Linked DNA regions of Homo sapiens. The protein of the gene in region 1 purifies or fractionates together with the protein of each later gene. This does not show direct contact. Each region holds a gene or a part of one and is shown in the gene's direction. Other genes may lie near its edges.

Region 1 (7,023 bases):
AGGAGAAATGCTAGCACTCACCATTCTGGACATCTTGAGAGCCCAGTAAAATGATGAGTTGGACTGAAGTGTTCAATAAACATGAGATTGTGGAAATAATCTCATTTCTTAAGACAAACCAGTAGTTGAGAATAATGATTGCATTATGAAGGGCACGTTATAGGGTCAGGCTCTGCCACGCTCTAGCTAGGTGGCCTTGGGAAAGCTCTTTTTTTTTTAACAAAGTAAAATGGGGAAATGATGGCCATTTTTTTGGATTGTTATGAGGGCTAGCTCAGAAACCGCGTGTGAAACATAACACAATACTTTGTTCAGAGAAGATACTCAATTCTAATGGTAAATAGAATTGCTGTTACTAGCTTTTTATTCAACTACACATAAATTGAATTGCATGAATTGTTCTTTTAGTAGTCACTACGTTGTTTATATAAACACTACGTTGTTTATATATTTCACTTTATAATGAAATAAATGACAAGGCATGTATTTTTTTTTTCTTTTTAGGTTTATTGAAGTCAAAATGTCCAAAAAAATCAGTGGCGGTTCTGTGGTAGAGATGCAAGGAGATGAAATGACACGAATCATTTGGGAATTGATTAAAGAGAAACTCATTTTTCCCTACGTGGAATTGGATCTACATAGGTAAATGAGTTACCCCTCCGTGTAGCAAACTCAGAAAGGATAATCTGGCTGGGCATGGTGGTGCACACGTGAAGTCCCAGCTACTTAGGAGGCAGAGGCAGGAGGATCCCTCAAGACCAGGAATTCAAGTCCAGCCTGGGCAACAGAGTGAGACCCCATCACTTTAAAAAAAAAAGGAAAAAAAAGGGAAGGAGAAACAGGAAAAAAAAAAAGAATATAATCTGAATTATTTTGAGGTGAAGTTAGCTTTTTTTATATAGATATAGCTGTGTTTTGTGAATAAAGTTTGTTTTAAGCCTAAATATATTCAGATGAATCTTCTAATTTTAACATACTGCTAGAAAAACTGGATTTATCATCTAAAAGTCAAGAATTATAAGGGAAAGAATGATTTTCAGATTCTTCTAACCTTCTGTTTCCTGTGAAGGTTTTATTTGTAATAAAACAGTGGCTAAGAATAGTACAATGTATTGAGAAAAGGGAAATAAGAGAGGATGTAAGAAACAGTAAACTAAATGCAGTTAACACAATTTTGTCATTTCAAACTCAATTTTCTATCACTTTACTTAGTCAATGGACCTGTTTCCTTTTCATGCCTCACCTTTTGCCCTTTTCATACAATTGTAGTGCAGAAAGAATTCATGATGTTTCTTAGTTGAACCCCTCCTTTCCAGCAAAATTCCCTTAAATCCTGTGTCCCTTTGCCCTGTGTGTAAAGTGCCTGGGGACAGATGCAAAAGTCTATGTAATTCTCTCATTTTTTTCGCTGTGTTTTTCATAAACTTGCTTCTGTTCTTTGTACCTTTAGGTAGAGATAGAATTTTTAAAAGGGTAAAGTGGCTGAAGACTGGCATAGAAAAATATTGAGCAACACGTTTCAGCCAAACTATTGGCAACTCTAAGTGTGTTTGCCTCAGCCCAGAATTAGTCATCAAAATTTGTCCTAAGGACCTGTTTGAGTGGAGACATTTAATTCACATAATGTCATTAAACATACTTTTTAATTGTTCTAAACCTAAGCTGCTGATGTCTATATTGAAATCATGATAAGATATAAATACTTGCAGAAGTCAACCAAACATAAGAAATTAGGCATAAAAACATCTTCCAACTAGGTTAAAAAAAAAAAGCATCTTAGGAACTCCTGTTTCAGGACTTTACATGACAGTAGGTGAACTGGCAGGGTTCTTTTCCTTATAATGGCTGCAACTAAAGATGCTTTGAGCCTCTTTAGTGTGGAATCATGAGGAGTTTTAAAGGGGAGTCACTATGACTAGGAGGAAAAAATTTGGTGGCTGCAGACTAGATAATTTTTGGAGGCTCAAACAAGTTTTAAATTTTTCCAAAATTCCTATTATTATCACTGACTGGTTCTTTTTCAGGAGAATGGAGCAGGTAGTTTGTTTTATGTAGGCTGGACAGTGGTCTGGGCAATTTGTTCCTTCCTTTCTTATCTTCTTAGAAATGTTAAGAAGACAAGCAAAAAATCTAATAATTTGCTGATAGATTCTCCTTATGAGAAATGGTTCCTAGGAACTTGAAAACTACTGATCATACTTCCTGTTGGAGTTGGGATTGGATCAACATTTCCTATGCAAGAAGATAACAAAGGACATGACTTTGTTAGATTTATATGAATTATCTAAAGTCGAAGCAGTTGGAAGTTATTTTTATTTGGAAATATGTCAAGATTACTATCTCTTTGTTTGCATCATGAGTTGGGTAGGAGATCTAAGAAAGGAAGATAAGGGAACCAAAAAGAAATCTAGAGGCAGGTTTTAAGAGCTGAAAAACCTTTTAAATCCTTGGAGAACAGAATAAACAAAACATTATTTTGTTTTCTTGCTTTTTAACAAACTATTGCATGCTTCAAATAAAGCTTTGCAGTCATTTTCTATGCTCCCTGGACAACTAACATTCTTTCAGCTCTGAATGACCTGCAATCTTTGTGTTGGTGTATATTAAGCTATTACTCTCTGGTATGTAGAAAACCATTGATGGATTCCTTTACTTACCCAATAAATTGTAGGCTTGTTTCCAGAGCAAACACTTGCTCAAGAATTACAGAAGGAATTAGCTGGGCATGGTGGTGCATGCCTGTAGTCCCCGCTACTGGGGAGGCTGAGGCGGGGGAATCACTTGAACCCAGGAAGGCAGAGGTTGAGTGAGCCAAGATCGTGCCACTGCACTCCAGCCTGGGCAACAAAACGAGACTCATCTAAAAAAAAAAAAAAAAGGGAAAGGCTCATTTTATGACTAACTGGCATTAATGAAGTAGTCATTCGCATTTTTGGCATCAACTGTCACATCTTTACCTCCCACCACTTCAACGTCAAAATACAAAAAATCCTTTAACCCCTCCCACCCCCTTTTATTTTTAAAGAGCAATATTTACTAAGGGAAAAAGGTGGTCCTTAGACTTACACTTATTATACTAATTATATGGAGAGAAACCAGGCCATTATTGCCTCTATCTGGTGAAAAACAGGAGGCAAAGGGCAGAGTTTGATGGTTTCCATTCATTTTCCTGATAGACAGCTTCCCATTACAAGAGGAGGGGCAGCCCAGCAGTCTAGCCTCTCTTAGTTCTCTTTGTAGTTGGCACCCATCTTCTGTGTTTAGGGTGTGCCAGTGCTAAAACTTGGCAGATTTTGGTGTACTCAGAGCCTTCGCTTTCTGCATAATGAGCTCTATATGCCATCACTGCAGTTGTAGGTTATAACTATCCATTTGTCTGAAAAACTTTGCTTCTAATTTTTCTCTTTCAAGCTATGATTTAGGCATAGAGAATCGTGATGCCACCAACGACCAAGTCACCAAGGATGCTGCAGAAGCTATAAAGAAGCATAATGTTGGCGTCAAATGTGCCACTATCACTCCTGATGAGAAGAGGGTTGAGGAGTTCAAGTTGAAACAAATGTGGAAATCACCAAATGGCACCATACGAAATATTCTGGGTGGCACGGTCTTCAGAGAAGCCATTATCTGCAAAAATATCCCCCGGCTTGTGAGTGGATGGGTAAAACCTATCATCATAGGTCGTCATGCTTATGGGGATCAAGTAAGTCATGTTGGCAATAATGTGATTTTGCATGTTTTTTTTTTCATGGCCCAGAAATTTCCAACTTGTATGTGTTTTATTCTTATCTTTTGGTATCTACACCCATTAAGCAAGGTATGAAATTGAGAAATGCATATATGTATAACTGTATATTTACACACATTTAGCTAAAGGCAAATACAAATAAACTTACAAATAGGCGTCCATCTCAACACATTTTTTTTCAAACATGCTGTTTTTTTTCCTTTATCCTTTTATTCAGTTATACCATATGATATTGCCATTTTTATGTTGGTAATTTCATATGGTTCAACCAGATCTGTGGTTTTCAACACTGGCTGCACAATAGGATCCCCTTACAAGTTTTTTTGGTGGTTTTGTTTTGCTTTGCTTGATTTGTTTCTTTGTTTTAGTTTCAATGCTTGAGTACCACCCTACACAAATTAAAATCTGAATTCCATGGGGTTCAGGCATTTTAAAGCTCCCCAGGTGAATCTAATGTGCAAACTTGAGAACCACCAAAGATTGTATTAAACATGATCCCATCATGCATAAAAGAAAAAACTGGCTGGGTACTATGGTTCACACCTGTAATCCTAGCACTTTGGAGGCCAATTTGGAAGCACTGCTTGAGGCCAGGAGTTTGAGACTAGCCTGGACAACATAGCAGAACCCTGTCTCTACAAAAATGAAAAGTATTTCAATAATTATGTCAATTGTTCATGGAAGAGCCAGTTTTGTTTATTCATATACAAAGTGAGTAGGCGAAGCTGAGTGGGGTGGCATGTGCCTATAGTCCCAGCTACTTGGAAGGCTGAGGCCTGAGGATCCCTTAAGCCTAGGAGTTCAAGGTTACAGCTATGAGCTATGATCACACCACTGCCTACGCAACAGAGCAAGACCCTGTCTCGAAAAAGAAAAAGAAAAAAAAAACTGACTCGGTAGTTGAAAGCAGCCTTACTAAAGCATTCCTTCCTGCCTGGAAAAAAAGTATTGCTTCTTTACTTCTGTACCAGTACACTTGTTGCCAAATTAAGCAAAAAAACTGCCAAGTAAACAAAATCAAAGTTCAGTGTTGAAACTGAGGTTTCAGACTTTCACAGAAAGTAGTTTATGTCTTAAAAGGACCTTAAAAACAGGAATCTCTCATGCTGAAATCCAGAGGTTTTAATGTAGCCATCATTGAAAACAGTGTGTTGAGGGTAAACAGTTTAGTCCTTGAGGGGTCAGTTAACTTTGTTCCACTCTGTGGCTAAAACTATCCTTTCATCCTGGCCAAAGCCTTCAGAAATAGCTCCCAGGGGCCCAAGCAAGGGAAGGTAGATGGCAGTGGTGCAAACTCGCTAATCTTGTAAAAATCACCCTAGATTCTTTCCAGTTCAGTCGTGCCTTTTTTCTGCGTATATCCTTTTTGTTTTTTGTTTTTGAGACAGAGTCTCGCTCTGTCGCCCAGGCTGGAGTGCAGTGGTGTGATCTTGGCTCACTGCAACCTCTGCCTCCCGGGTTCAAGCAATTCTCCTGCCTCAGCCTCTTGAGTAGCTGGGATTACAGGCACATGCTACCATGCCCGGCTAATTTTTGTGTTTTTAGTAGAGACGGGGTTTCACCATGTTGGTCAGGCTGGTCTCAAACTCCTGACCTTGTGATCCGCCCGCCTCCGCCTCCGCCTCCCAAAGTGCTGGGATTACAGGCATGCCACCATGCCCGGCCTTCCTCTTTTTTTTTTTTTTTTTAATTATTTTGGCATCAGTCATTTGTAAAAATGGCCATTCTATTTATTAAAGTCCAGAAAGAGAATTTCAAACCTCAGGTTGATTCATGGACTGTTTAAATATACATAAACCTATACAAAGCATTTATGGTGCTTTGGTACCTCAGTTTCTCCCTTTTCAGAAATAGTAATAAATTACCACCCATATTTACTTTATGGATTTTATATGTCAAAAATGTTCTGTGTAAAGTAGGTGTTTAATCTTTATTGTTACTTACTGCTCTTTTACCAGTTGTTATTAGTATTTCTCTACACTTATAGATGTGGCCGGCACCTGCTGGTACCTAACTCTGCAAGTATCTGATTCAATTCATTGAAGAAGATACAATGCAGCAAAGACTTATGGATGTCTAGTATATGCCAGGCATATTATTCCACTGAGTAGCTGAGGCCCATGAGGGAGGTGCCTGTCCTTGAACAGCCCTTTCCTAAAAATCATCATCATCCCATTGTAGCTGCTCCCAGAATGATTTGATTGCTCCATATGAACAAGTCCTATAACACTAGTAACAATGATACCATGAGAGACCGAGCCCCGATGGCCTAAGTAAGGACGAGACCTCAAGTCCTTTGACCCTGGATGCATTATTTCTACTATATCATAGTTCCCTCCTTGTAAGACTGATGTAAGAATCAAATGAGATTATGCAAGTTAAGCATTTAAAGCATCTGGCATAGAGTAAGGACAAAGCATTAGCTACCTCAGTACTACAATTAGTATTGTTATCATCACCCTCTAGGGAGACTTCCCTGACTTCCTTCCATGGTCACCTCTTTTCCTCTGTCATCCTATAGTTTTTTTTTTTTTGGGGGGGGGGTCTAATACCCTCTTTTGGCATTTGAAAGCTCTTATATTGCTTTTCACTTATATATGTCTTTATAGGGTTGTAAACTTCCTAAAGGAAAGTGGCTTATGTTATTCTCTGTCCTCTTCAAATCAGTGCTCAGAAAACTTTCCTATACCTCGTATAGGCACCTAATAAATATTTACTGATTTAGGGGAATGTCTGGACCTCTTCATCCCCATCTCCTAAAAAAAAAAAAAAAAAAAGAAGTTTGACATACTGCCCTATTTGTCTAGGTGTCTTCTAGGTCTATATTATATGAATATTCTCCTTACAATTCCTGCTAGGGTATTTTTTTTTTCTTTATACCTTTTTCCCCTCTACACAGTACAGAGCAACTGATTTTGTTGTTCCTGGGCCTGGAAAAGTAGAGATAACCTACACACCAAGTGACGGAACCCAAAAGGTGACATACCTGGTACATAACTTTGAAGGTATGTATGACTGTAGCATAAGCTTCTTTTTTTTTTAAACAAATGATTTAGATAATATTTTTATTGCTTTTTTTGTTAGTTATGTGACTGCCTAAAAATATAATCTGAATCTACAGTGTTTTTGCAAAACCCGAAACTTGACATAAAGAAGTAATTTGCTTCCATACCTTCCTGTGGCATGAATAAAGGCACAAAAGGGTTACCCACTTAATTGGAAATGCCTTTAGGCAAAGACAAGGAGATGATTATGCATTTATCTTAAAGCACAGA
Region 2 (7,798 bases), on another chromosome or scaffold:
TTCAGTTTATTAAGTAAATTTTTCAGTTTACTTTATGTTTTCAGTAACCAAAGCACCTGCTGTGGTTTGAATGTGTCCTCCCCAAATTCATATGTTGACACTTAATTGCCAGTGTGATAGTATTAAGATATGGGGCTTTTCAGAGTGATTAAATCATGAGAGCTCATGAATGTGACTAGTGCCCTTATAGAAGAGGTACAAGGGAACTGTTTATGTCTTCTGCCCCTTCCATTATGTGAGGACACAGAGAAGGTATAATCTATGAGGAACAGGCTCTCATCAGACCCTTGTTAAAAGAAAAACTTTAGACAAATTAACTTTAGCAGAGTTTATTTGAGCAAAGAACAATTCATGAATCAGGCAGCACTCTGAACCAGTAGAGGTTCAGAAAGCCCCACTCAGCAATGTGAGCAGGCAGTATTTATAGGCAGAAAGAGGAATTGAGGTACAGAAACAGCTTGATTGATTATGGCCCAGCATTTGCCTTATTTGGGCACAATGCAATGTGGCATTTGCCTTATGTGGACATGGTCTTATTAGTTGGTAGTATGTGATTGGATGAAACCTGGCTGCTGTAATTAGCTGAGACTCAGCTATCTGTTACAAGAACATACTCTTAAGTAAGGTTTATTTAAACACTAACTTAGGTGCAGTTTGCTATGCAGAATTCCAAAGTATGGAAGCAGCTTTTGGCCAAATTTAATTTAATTTAACATATTCAATATGCTGGTGCCTTGATCTTGGACTTTCCAGCCTCCAGAACTGTGAGAAATACATTTCTTCTTGTAACTTACCCAGCCTAAGATATTTTGTTGTAGCAGCAAGAATGGACTAAGATAGCATCTGGGAAATAATTAATAATGTATAATCTTTTAACACCTGAATAATGCAAATATTGATCTAGAGATTACCTTACATCTTGACATTCTGTAAGCCCTGCTTAACTACTGCACCACAGAAGGCCGTATAGCTAGAGACTGCAGAGCTGAGACTTGAACCCTAGAAGCCTAACCACAGAATTCCTGCTCTTTATTATTTTGCTGTCAACACTTGATTCTGAGGTTGTGCAAATTCACTGTGTAAAAATCAAGAGGCACATATAGTTTGAAATATAAAGCAGACGTGTGGGGGAAAGGAAGACCAGAAGAGATGATCCTCTTCTATGTCATGTTATTAAGTATGAACTTTGGATCTCAAAGGCAGTGGGGAAAACCAATGACAGGTTTTAAGCAGAAATAAAGTGATCAGTCTTGAATGTATACAAGATCACTCTGGTGCATTTTACTCTTTTAGGTTTCCTTAGTATCTTATCATAATTTTCAATTTCATTCCAGGCCTTAAGCCCTCTCCAAGTATCTCATGCATTTATTTTACTTTTTTTCTGAGAAAACTACACTTTATAAAAATCAATCTATTTTTTCTTTAATCATTGAACAAATATTAAATACACACTAGTTAATACAAGGGACTCCTTTAAAGGATCTATGAAAATAAGCTTGCAAAATATGCAAATTAATGGGTGTCTTGCACTATAAAACAATACTTAGATTTACAGATTTATGTGAAATTTCAGATTTATGTCCTTCAAACCTACTAGAAGCAAATTGTTTGAAGGACTATGTTCTCCATATATTAAAGGACTATTGTGATAAAATGAAGCACGCATGCACTTTTATAAGTGACTCAAATGACCTACTTAAAAACTGCTATTTCTAGTGAAACCAGTTAATCAACATTTGAAAAACAAGTCTTCAGATGCCCCTGGTTATCATCCTGGGGAGTACACCATCAACTGTGAGAATAGGATGTCATATCTTGCACTAATGAGATATGCTAATGCATCATATTTTAGGAGAATTAAAATGAAACTCCTTAAAACAGAGAATAATTTACAATCTAATAAACTCTGACACATTACCTGCATGTATCTGATAAAATGGTGCCACACAGTCATGCCTTGCTTAATGACAAAGACAGGTTCTGAGAAATGAGATGCTAGGCTATTTTGTCATTGTGCTAATACAGAATATACTGACATAAACCTGGATGGTCTAACCTACTACACACCTAGGCTATATGGTATGGCTTATGCTCCTAGGCTACAAACTTGTACAGCATGTTACTGTACAATATTTAGTAGGCAATTGTAACATAATGGTAGTTATTTGTGTATTTAAATTTTTCTGTTCTTTCTTTTATTTTGAGACAGAGTCTTGCTCTGGCATGCAGAGGAGCAATCTCGGCTCACTGCAACCTCTGCCTCCCAGGCTCAAGCAATCCTCCTTACTCAGTCCCCACTGCCCACCCCACCCCAGTAGCTGGCTACAGGTGTGCTCCACCACACCAGCTAATTTTTTTGTTTGTCTGTTTTTGTAGAGACGGGGTTTCACCATGTTGCCTAGGCTGGTCTCGAACTCCTGGGCTCAAGCGATCCACTTGCCTTGGCCACCCAAAGTGCTGGGATTGCAGGCGTGGGCCACTGCACATGGCTAAACATTTCTAAACATAAAAAAGCTACAGTAAAATATGTTATTATAATCTTATGGGACCACCATCATATATGCTGTCCATTATTGACCAAAATGTTATGTAGCACATGACTTGGTGTATGTACACCCACACCCACACATACACATACGTATCATAACATAATACAAAAAAACAAAAAAAAATACAAAAAAACAAACAAAAAAATCTTTCCTCATTGCATGACTGGAATCAGACCTTTTGTTTAAAGGCTTTGAATCCAATTCTCCCAGTTTTTAAAAGTGTGGAAGTTAAACTGTAAGATTCCACAAAGAAAGGTTTCCAGAATATAACATATTTGCCAGAAACTGCCTTTCAAAGCAAGTGGGAAATATCCTTACTAGTTCGGAAAAGTTCAGATATTTAAAAGAAGTAAAATTTTGCACACCAATTAAAATTGAAGTGCCTTTGTGTAACTAGAAGTGAAATCAGCACATAAGAACTTTTTTTGTAATTTGTAATCTAATTTATTCAAGTTGAAGAGACTTGCACATTATTTAAAAAGTATAAAATGAAGTCACAGTCATCAAAAATACAGTACAGTGTGTTTTGACCATACAGTAATTAGGGTGATTTTCTCAGGAGACTTAGTCACATAGCATGCAACATTTAAAATGTGTCTTCCTCAGCCAAGAGCAACAAAGTGAGACCAGCCAAGAGTCAGTCATATGACCACCGGCAAAGTTGCCAATGCAGTTTTTCCATTTCATGTGCCCTGTGGAAGGGCAAAAGTGGAAAAGCAGACCCAATCGCAATGGGCAAAAGTGGAAAAGCAGACTCAATTGGAATGCTAGTTTTTTTCACATTGTGTAAGTTAAAGGTACAACAGCTGCTATATGCTAAATTATCACTAGTTATGGGACTTTAGTTACAGTACTTGAATTTCCCCCCAATCCAACTTCTTAAAATGTGTTGAAATACCAACTAGCAATAAGTTAATTTCTCCAGTGTAATTGAATAGTCTAACTTGGTATCTTACTCCTTAACTGATTTTGACTAAAATTATAATATTTACAGGAAAAAAAAAAGTTCAGAGTTAAAAGAATACCATGAAAGGGCAAATGATTTTATGGACAAACTTTGAACTGCATCTTCACTGTTCATTACCTTACTGTATTTGCTAAGGAAGCTAAGATCTCATTTAATTTTTGTGTGCTTTGCTTTGGTTCAAAACTAACATCACATTCTCAGAACTTGGTCAGGCCTTAATCAAATAAAATGCTATTGAGCTTCCACTTGGTCTTTCCACTCTGCTAAGTGCAAAGACAGTTCTGGAGAAATCAGTCGTGGCTCATGTCCTCAAGGAGTTGGTCAAAAGACAAGGCTTGGCGAATATGTACGTGCCATGTCAATGAACTGCTACAATGGAATAAACTTATAATAATGCCTAACATTTATTGACTCCTCATAATAAGGCCATAAACTTTGCATGAATTAACTCATAGAAACGTTATGACGTTGTATCACAAGCAATCCTAATTTGCAGATGAGGACACTGAGGCTTAGGGAAGTTATCTAACTTGCCTAAGGTTAAAGCAATATACTGCTTTTATGGTTGCATCTTTAGTAATCTCTGGGGTTGCTGGGACTCCAGTGCGAGAAAGAGCCCGAAATTCGCAAACTTGGATGATGGGGAAGAAAAGGTGTGCTAAACTCAGGTCACAGAGGTCCAGTCTTAATCTTGTTCCTCTGCAAGCCTTGTTGCTCACACCTCTTGACCGACAGTTCGAGGCAAGTGCTCACAGCAAACTTACTCTATGTAAGCCAAGGCCAGATGTGGGGAGAAGGGGCTGAGAAATGTTAGAAACGTGAACGCAGTCCAGGCGGGAGAAGAGAAGGGGGCCTCGAGGGGTGCCCCTATGCAGCCCACACACACGCCAGGCACTAACTTGGAAAAGCAACAAGCTTGGCGGGAGATCCTCCCGCGGCCGGAGGGCCCTGAACCCTAGGCCAAGACTCATCCACAACCTAGGGGGAGGCGGCCACCAGCGCCCCATCGAAGCTAAAGGGCTGACAGAAGGGCTGTAGCGGCAAGTGTGCGCCAACACAGCTGCACACGCCCAGACACCTGAGGCGCTGAGAGGAACTTCCCCGCGATCCGCCCCGGCTGCACAGAGCCTCTTCTCCCCGCCGGGGCCCCGCCCAGCCTCACTTCTTTTAAAAGCAGCAGCCAGCAGCGCGCCGGTGGCGTGCGGCTCGAAAGGCCGGGAGGACGTCATCGACGCGCTGTCGAGCCTCCAGCCCGCCCGGGTTTCCTTCGCAGTCGCGCACCGACGCTCAAACGCGCGCTCCAACCCGCAGCCTCCTCCTGCCTCACCGCCCGAAGATGGCGGCTCTCAAACTCCTCTCCTCCGGGCTTCGGCTCTGCGCCTCTGCCCGCGGATCTGGGGCAACCTGGTACAAGGTAAAGTGCGGGGGAAGAGGAAGGCCATGGGCAGGAAGAACGTGGACCAAACCCTGAGTGGTGCCCGCGTTTTCTTCTCTGCCCCTACCCGCTCTCTCCAGCCTGGGATCTGGCATCCGTGGCGCGGTGCCCTGGTCACGGACACGCGGCGACGCGTTCCTGGCCTCGCCGGCCCCTCGGATGACCGCCTTTGCTTGGTTCTGCAGTCGCTTCCCTGATGGAGCGAGACGCGATAAAGAAGCGCGCGGAGAGGCTGAGAAGGGGCGGGAGGACTCCTGGCAGCGCTCCCGAGCCCTTTGGCGCTCGTCGGCTTCCCTCCTGGCACCCGCCCTTGGATAGGGACTCTGAGGGTCTGAACGGGGGGAGGAGGGCGCCAGTATATGGAGGTTTAGGAGTGAGGCAACAGCGGGTAGGTTTGCGCCCCCGATGTTGGATCTCTGGGCAGAGGAACCTCTAGAGGCCCAGAACCTGAGGCTGGGTTAGCCATGGCTCTGCTCGAGTTCACCGGGGCTGGATGCCGGGTGCGGCGGGTGTGGAATGCCGCTCCCATCCTCTCCTCCCTATTTGGCTCTGCTGCCCCGTAGACTGGAGCGCTCGCCAGGGCGTCTTGCCGGCCAAGCTGGGAAACCATCCGAGGTGTGTCCCTGGCCCGCGCCTGGGCTGCAGGGGAGGACAAACCTTTCTCTCGAGGCCCCTCGTATCCGGGTTAGGGGCTTTCGGTTTTCAGAGCCCTTTGAAATCCTTTTTGTGCCCCACTGCCGACTCTCCACCGAGTGGTATCCGGAGGCATTCCCACCGTGGACTGACTTGTGGTTTTGCCTTATGCACTGTCCTCGCTTGTAAGCCCACCCCTGTCTGGAGCCCTAGGAGCGAATTACAGGACCAGAGCGCCAGGTCCAGGAGGGTGGCTTTATCCCCGCCGTCTCAATCGCGGGAGCCTCTTCCTTGGTATTCAGTAATAGGTCTGAGCTTGACAGCGTGCCATGCACACGGTGCTTACTCCTGAAGCGTGCCTGCCTGGCCCCATTGCTCTTTCCTGCATCCAATCCCTGACCGCTGAGAACACAGAGGAGCCACTGAGCTCCTTCGGTAGGTGCTAGGGAATGGTTCAGAACTGGACCATTTTACTCTTAAATGCCTCTTAGGAAGCATTTTTATAACTGCAGATAGACTTGGATATATAAAGCATTATTAAAAGGGAACTTGACCTTCAGTGAGATTGCAGCGGTGCTGAAGCTAATACAAACCAGAGCACAGCGATACCCTTGGGCCGAGGTCAGGAACGTTCCTTCTTTTGACAGTTACTGATTTGCCCAACTGTAATTTACTCACTTCAAGTCTTTTCCATCTTGAGTATATCATTAAACCATTTCCGAAGCTCAGCAAACCTCATCTTAGAGGGACGAGATGCAAATAAGGGGTTCTGCTATATCTCATTAAAAGTTCATACAGAGTTCAAACTTAGCCCTGTCAGGCTTGATTATCATAGGTCTAACTCCTGCCTTCCACTATTCCCCTAGCTTGTGGCTCTTAGTGCCCTTATTGTTTTTTTTTTTTTGAGACGGAGTCTCGCTCTGTCGCCCAGGCTGGAGTGCAGTGGCGGGATCTCGGCTCACTGCAAGCTCCGCCTCCCGGGTTCACGCCATTCTCCTGCCTCAGCCTCCCAAGTAGCTGGGACTACAGGCGCCCGCCACTACGCCCGGCTAATTTTTTGTATTTTTAGTAGAGACGGGGTTTCACCGTTTTAGCTGGGATGGTCTCGATCTCCTGACCTCGTGATCCGCCCGCCTCGGCCTCCCAAAGTGCTGGGATTACAGCCCTTATTGTTTAGCACTTTAAATCCTCACCTGCTGCTTCTGTTGAACTGTACCACTTATCTACTTGTTTAACTTTTCAGATGTGTATATTGTCTCCTCAACCAGATGACAGTTCCCCGATGGCAGAGACCATATTTATGCCTTACACTTAGTCTCCCTCAACAAACACACTACTCTGCATAGATCAGATATTCTACACATGTTTAAAGTACGGATGAGAGAACCCTCCAGGCAAACAGAAACCTTGAGTTTTTCCACTAAACATAACTAACAGCTAAAACGAGATAGTTATTTTCTTAAATGTTTAACATTTTTATAATGGGCAGGCCCAGTGTCTCGCAGACCTGAGAGTGCATCAGCATTACCTGGAGGTTTTCTAAAACAGATTGCTGTACCCACCCCCAGAATTTCTAATTTAATAGGTCCTGGGTGGGGCCCTAAACTTTGCATTGATAAGTTCCAGGTGATGTTGATGCTGCTGGTCTGGGGACTGACTGCCCCTTTCAGAGTTATCTGGCATGGACTTAGGTGAAAATAGACTATTGGGAGGTATCTTCTTTTCTTCATTATTACTGAGGGGCAGTGGGGAGCATTTAATACTATTTTCACTATAGAAAATTATTAGTGGGAAAAAGGTTATAAGAGTACCACTAACACTTTACCCACCATTCATCCTTGACCCTGTCTTTTCCCAAATCTCTTTCCAACCTCTGACTCTCCTGAGCTGCAGTCCTTCTGGTGCAACTGGTGAACTTCACTTGGATGTCAGTTGGTGCTTAAAGCTCTTTCTGATCCAAAGCAAACTAGCCATAAAGTGGCTTTCCCATTCCTTGTTTTGTTCTTCTATCACTGTGCTTAACAGCACCAGTATCCATCCAGTATATAAGCTGGAAATCCTGGAACCATCTTCTCTTCTCCTTGCTGCACTTCCAATTGATCACCAAGTGTCATATGTGTGCCTCTTTCTGAAATGTTCCTCAGTGCTGTCCCTGGCATTCTTTCTCAGCAACTGTTTCTTCCTTATAGCTCCCCAATTAAATACTATGATTGT

What was found.
Region 2: the proteins of IDH1 (region 1) and OXCT1 fractionate together in Homo sapiens (co-fractionation; 2 studies listed by BioGRID). This does not show direct contact.

Annotation. Positions count from the first base shown.
Region 1 is NC_000002.12:208,245,049-208,252,071, reverse strand, and holds part of IDH1 (isocitrate dehydrogenase [NADP] cytoplasmic), read left to right. Parts: intron 1-504; 5' UTR 505-520; coding exon 521-642; intron 643-3,411; coding exon 3,412-3,703; intron 3,704-6,647; coding exon 6,648-6,753; intron 6,754-7,023. UniProt on the Homo sapiens protein: Catalyzes the NADP(+)-dependent oxidative decarboxylation of isocitrate (D-threo-isocitrate) to 2-ketoglutarate (2-oxoglutarate), which is required by other enzymes such as the phytanoyl-CoA dioxygenase.
Region 2 is NC_000005.10:41,867,413-41,875,210, reverse strand, and holds the start of OXCT1 (succinyl-CoA:3-ketoacid coenzyme A transferase 1, mitochondrial isoform 3 precursor), read left to right. Parts: upstream 1-4,785; 5' UTR 4,786-4,852; coding exon 4,853-4,930; exon of another isoform or gene 4,931-5,467; coding exon of another isoform or gene 5,468-5,566; intron 5,567-5,608; exon of another isoform or gene 5,609-7,798. UniProt on the Homo sapiens protein: Key enzyme for ketone body catabolism.